2 separate regions of the Homo sapiens genome follow, and region 2 is linked to region 1. The links come from fine-mapping of genetic effects on gene expression. A gene starts in region 1. The other region holds a variant in brackets. All regions are shown on one strand. Distances are from middle to middle.

Region 1 (3,008 bases):
CAGTGTCATGTTACCAGAGTTATCGCTCAGTTTTGTTTGTTAAGGCTTTTGCTAGAACCTATTATGTATCCAGTTTTTAAAACATACTTCATTCCCTTGATAGCAGAGATCCAGAGCACAGATGGCAAGTTGTGTGGATGATACTGAATATGTTTATTTTCCTAAAGATAAATGTCACGACACGACATTTCTCAGTTTTTATTTAGATGTTTATTACCATGTGTTAACAGAATCTTAAAACCCAAGGGATTTCTTCAGTAAACTAGACTTTGATTCAACCTGCTGGGCTGGAGACTGTAATTGCCGTGGTCAGTTAAGGAGTGCAAAGGGTGTTCTGTCTGATAGGATCTGGGTGAGCCCTGCGGACTTTCCAGCAGCGAAAGGACTTGGAACTCCTCTTTCGCTGAATGCTGCTCTGTTTCTGGAATGGATATTTTATAACAACATTCTGGTGTCAGCATCCCCTCAGCAGTTGTTTATTTAAAAATTTTTTTATTTTTTTTGAGACAGTGTCTCACTCTGTCACCTAGGCTGAAGTGCAGTGGTGCAGTCTCGGCTCACTGCAACCTCTGCCTCCTGGGTTTAAGCAATTCTCCTGCCCTAGCCTCCCGAGTAGCTGGGATTACAGGCGCCTGCCACAGTGCCCGGCTAATTTTTGTATTTTTAGTAGAGACAGGGTTTCACCATGTTGGCCAGGCTGGTCTCAAACTCCTGACCTCAGGTGATCTACCCACCTTGGCCTCCCAAAGTGCTGGGATTACAGGCGTGAGCCACCGCGCCTGGCCCTCTGCAGTTGTTTAATAAGGCACAGAATACCTGTAGCATAGGTCAGCCTTACGATGTCCATGAATTACATATTCAGACGTTTTAGAGCCTGATACATTTTGGAAAAGAAAAACAACTTCTACACCTATTCTACAGTCCGCATTTAAAACAATAAATTCCTCTATTAAAAACGTAAAGCCGGGTTTGCTTGCGTGCCACAGGGAATATATCCAGGAAGGTTATTATGAAGCTGTCAAATCAAGATGATGGGAATAAGGCAGTTTGAACGAACAGTCTTCCCACAGTCAGGCCATTTTTGCTGATTTGGTTTAGAATTTTCAGAAATACTTAGTACACTCCACCTGTTCTTTGATGGGAATATCTAAGAAGGCTAGGTAGGTTCTTAGGGTTAGCCTGAGTCATCTAGGGGCTCAACTCCTTGTGAGGGGAAATGACAGTGAACAAGTTAGTACTTTGCTCCACAAATGCATGAAAGGACAAATTTGCATCTTCTATCAGTATTTAACTTCCTTTTGCTAATGACAAATAAATATATCTATATTTTTAAACGTGGGTGTTTTGCTTTATTATGCTCTAGTTTGGCAAGAAAGCTAAAGAACTCTGCTCCTTCCCTGATTTTGTAGGCCATGAGGAACTCGTGCTTTCTCGGCTTATTTCCTCCTCGTCTGGCCTCTAATCCCGCCTCTGCCACCGCCGAGGTGCTGTGACCTTCGTCTCGCCAACTCTCTAGCCCCAGCTTCATCTGCAAGGTGGGCGGGCTGCTTGCAAACCGGTCGGCGTGGGGTGGGGTCGCACCCTCGGCTGCAGCGGCCCGAGGGCGGCTCCTGGCGGCGAGGGTCCCGCTCCGCATCCAGGGGCGTGCGCGCTGCCGGGGCCAGGGAGCAACCAGCCTACCTCGGCGGCCCGGGGGCCTGGTGCGCGCCTCCGAGATCCCGGGGCCGGGGCGTGGGCTGCGGCTCGCGGGTTCGGGATCGAGGGGCCGGGCGCGGGGCACTGCCGAGCTTGCAGCCCCCAGCGCCGGCGCCGTCGGCGGGGCGAGCTGCGGCCGTTTCCGGGGCGCCCATTGCTAGGGCCGCCGTTGCCACGGACGCCCGCCCTGCGCCCGGCTCCCTCTGCACTGCGCGGCGCCATGGACGACCTGCGGGTGCTGTGGATGCGCGACCGCGTGTATGCGGCTTTCGGCATCACCGACCCCCAGCTTTTCGAGGACCTGCTCAACCGCGACGACGGCCAGGGCGAGGACCTCATCTTGCACTTCCTCAACCAGGCGAGCGAGGAGGAGGGGCCCTCGGCGCTCTTCATCTACCGCACTATGGTGCCGGAGGAGGTGGAGGTGGAGATTGGTGAGCCTCGACGCGCCGCTCCCTTCCCCGGGCTTCCCTCCTGCCCGTCCCGGCCTCTCCGGCGGGCGCCGGGGCTGCTAGAGCCTGCCCATCGTCCGGCCCCGGCCTCAGGTGCTGTCCACAAACGCTGCCGCCCGCCACGTGCAGGCCCCGGGCGAACCCAGCAATCACAGCCGTCCCTGCCCTCCTGGGCCCACAGCCCACTTGAAAGTCAGGCCTTGATTGAAAAATCACAGCAAACACTGACTTAGCCCGCACCCCGTGCCAGGTGCGGTTCCAACGCTTGTATCAACTCCTTAACCCTACGAGGCGGGTGTATCCTCATCCCTATTTTACAGATGAGCAAACTGGCACGGAGGGGGTTAAGTAACCTGCCCAAGGCCCACGGGGCGTCAAGATCCACTGTGCAATAATCCGAACGGCTGGGTAGAGCCATGCCCAGGTGTGGCAGGGACCCAGGTCACTGTCACTCTCCTTGACGGTCGCAGCCTCTCACGGAGGGTCCGAAGAGCACCCCTTTCTACTTCTGGAGGCTCCTTATATCCTAAAAAGTAAAATAAGGCTAGGACAAAGTTTAAAAACTACAGTAGACTTTAAATGTTTATGTTGAACAAATTAGCATCGCAAATACAAAAAGACAGTGACCAGGGTCCCAGAACCCTCTGTGGAGGCGGATCCCCAGCCCCACCTACTCTCTGATAGGCCAGGGACACTGAGAGGGCAGGGAGGGGCCAGCACAGGTGAGAGGAGGAGGCAGGACAACTCGCTTCAGAAACAGCTAGAAGGAGACTGGGACCTCGAAAGCCGCCTCCTCGCAGGAGCACCAGCTGGAGCACAGCTACCGGGACCTCCTGCCTGGCTGTCCAGTCTCCTGGGCTA
Region 2 (2,500 bases), 150 kb after region 1:
GGGAAACTGACGCCCTGGCTGGTTCCTAACTTGCCCAAGGGCTCAGGACCCCGCCGCAGGCCTGGGCTCCTTCTGTCTTGAATCTGAAAACATCTGCCCCATTCTTTCCCCACCTGCTTGTTCACAGAGCGGTGGCCGGGGCCTGGTTTCCATCCACCCTGAAGGGACCTTTTAAAGACACTTGACAGCCCCGCCGCTTTCCTAAGCAGCCAACACCAGCGTGATCGAGCCTTTTCCCGGGGACTCAGGGCCTTTCTTTCATCACTGGGCTTTGTGCTGAAGTGTGGGCGCCCTCCCTCCTGGCTGTTGCCCTGGCTTGTCCGTACACTATGGGGCCTTCTCTCCTCTGCTGTCTGTGTGGGAGTGTGTGAGGGTTCCGGGGTCAGGAGGGGTGGGGGATTTGCTCACTGCAGAAAGCCTCCAGGTTGCTGTCTGCTCAGGCTGTCTCCTCCCTGTCTCTCTGTCTCCTCCCTGTCTCCCTGTCTCCTCCCTGTCTCTCTGTCTCCTCCCTGTCTCTCTGTCTCCTCCCTGTCTCCCTGTCTCCTCCCTGTCTCTCTGTCTCCTCCCTGTCTCTCTGTCCCCTCCCTGTCTCCTCCCTGTCTTCCTGTCTCCTCCCTGTCTCTCTGTCTCCTCCCTGTCTCCCTGTCTCTGTTCTTGTGCATGTGTCTCCCCCTCTGTCCCTCCATCCCCCTCTTTCTTCTCTGGCTCACCCCAGCCTCCTACCAGAGCACAAATGCCTGGGCCCCTGCCTGGCCGCCCCCACACTGCATCCATGCCCTCCGGGACCTCTGTCTCCTGCTCTTCTCTCCTGCTTTTCCTTCCTCTCCTGCTTTGCCTTGTCTGTGCTGTTCTCTTCCACTTCTGTCTTTCCATGGCGTGGTCTGGGAGACTCCTGTGGCTTTCACTGACCTTGCCTGGCAGTGGGATGCCCCGGTGAGATGGGTTC[G/A]GTTCCTTCTCTGGCCTTTGTACCAGCGCTGCTGTTCTGTCTCCTGTTCCGTTGGCAGTTCTGGTTCTCCAGAGGAACAAGGGCAGTGGACATCTGCGTTCTGGAGGAGCAGAGTGATGATCTAGTCTTATCAAAGCCACAGAACACAATTACGGGGCAACATAGCCTGGAAAGAGCCCAGGATGCGGGGACCCCAGGCTTCCCAGGCGGTGTCAGCACAGCCAGTCATGCAAGCTCCCAGGACCCTGTTTGTCCATCTAGTAAATGGGGAGAGATAATGGTTGGTGGTGATGGTGATGGTGATGATGATGATGATAATGACAATAATGACGGCAGCCACCATTTAGAGTCTGAGGAATCAGCCGAGGGTGTAATTAAAACATAGGTGCTCAGGCTGCCCCCTAACCACTGATCCAGACGCTCCGGGGACGGCCTGGGTTTGTATTTTAATGCTGCCCCCGCACCATTCCAGGCGCCTGGTCTGGAACCTGAGAGGGGGACCCGGCCCTGCCCTTAGGGACGCTCCCGCCCAGGAGTGCGGTTTGTGTTGGGACCTGGCTTCTTTCGTTTGCTTGCAGCAGTAGCTCCAGGGACTGTCTTTTGGTTGAGCTCGTTTTTCTGGAGCTCTCTTTCAGGCCAGATCCTGGCCACATCCCGGGGTTGTGACCCACGTGCCTTGGTTTCTTGCCAGGTCGTTTGCTAAGCCCCCGAAGCAGGTGCAGACGGTCTGCGAATGCATCCTCATCATGAAAGGGTACAAAGAGCTGAACTGGAAAACAGCCAAGGGCGTGATGTCCGACCCGAATTTCCTGCGGTCTCTGATGGAGATTGATTTTGATTCGATTACCCAGAGCCAAGTGAAAAACATCAAAGGTGAGTGTAGCCACGTGTGGGAATCGCCAGGGTGGATCTCGGTCTGGCATCTCAGGCTCTGGGACAGGGATGGAGGGCAAGGAGGCTTGTCGTGGGCAGGCCCTCCCCTTCTGGTCAGATGGTATCGGATGGAACAGGCAACTGATGGTCACCAGAGGAAAACAGCAGCCCCATGACGTGACCCAGGGAGAGTGGCTGGGGATGCGCGGCGGCAGCCGTGCCCACTGAGGGTTCGATTCGGCACTAGTCCTAGCTCTCCGTGTCAGGAAACAGGATCTTCTCATTGGAACCTAGCCCAGCCTTGTCTTCTGTGCATCTCACCCAGTGCTGTTCAGTGCACATGCAGAAGCCCAGAGCTAGTCTGACCTTGACTTCCCCCCTTTCTCCTCTTGTCAGTGTCAAGTCTTCTGGAGGTCCCTGGGGAGTGGGCATGGGGGTGGGCAGCATCACTGATGGCCAGCCTCTCCTCCATCTTTGGTTATAGGACTGAGTTCCCCTTGAGCTCAGTTCCTGACCCTGCCCAGTGCTCAGCCAGGCGGTGATAGTGTAATGGTGTTAGTCTTTGCGAAAAGCAATACAAGTTAACGCTGTGTTTGATGGTTTATTTAGACTCTTATCAAATGCTTTTTCTTAGCCCCTTAAAAACAAAAGCAATCTCAACACAAATGACCCCAACCACTA

The links. PIP is the estimated chance that this variant, and not a neighbour inherited with it, causes the effect.
Region 2: its variant is fine-mapped to the expression of DNAH10 in fibroblasts (GTEx, PIP above 0.99).

What each region holds. Positions count from the first base shown.
Region 1 is chr12:123,760,422-123,763,429 of GRCh38, forward strand. It overlaps DNAH10 (dynein axonemal heavy chain 10), which reads left to right and starts at 1,880. Exons shown (of 79, transcript NM_001372106.1): 1 at 1,880-2,129. The coding sequence starts at 1,916. ATP6V0A2 (ATPase H+ transporting V0 subunit a2) reads left to right here. Exons shown (of 20, transcript NM_012463.4): 20 at 1-1,334. RefSeq lists a silencer at 1,461-1,880.
Region 2 is chr12:123,907,624-123,910,123 of GRCh38, forward strand. It overlaps DNAH10 (dynein axonemal heavy chain 10), which reads left to right. Exons shown (of 79, transcript NM_001372106.1): 58 at 1,638-1,819. Among named protein-coding and RNA genes, the nearest start is that of DNAH10OS, 26 kb to the right of the region's middle. RefSeq lists an enhancer at 219-513. The variant G/A (reference allele first, on the strand shown) is at 947.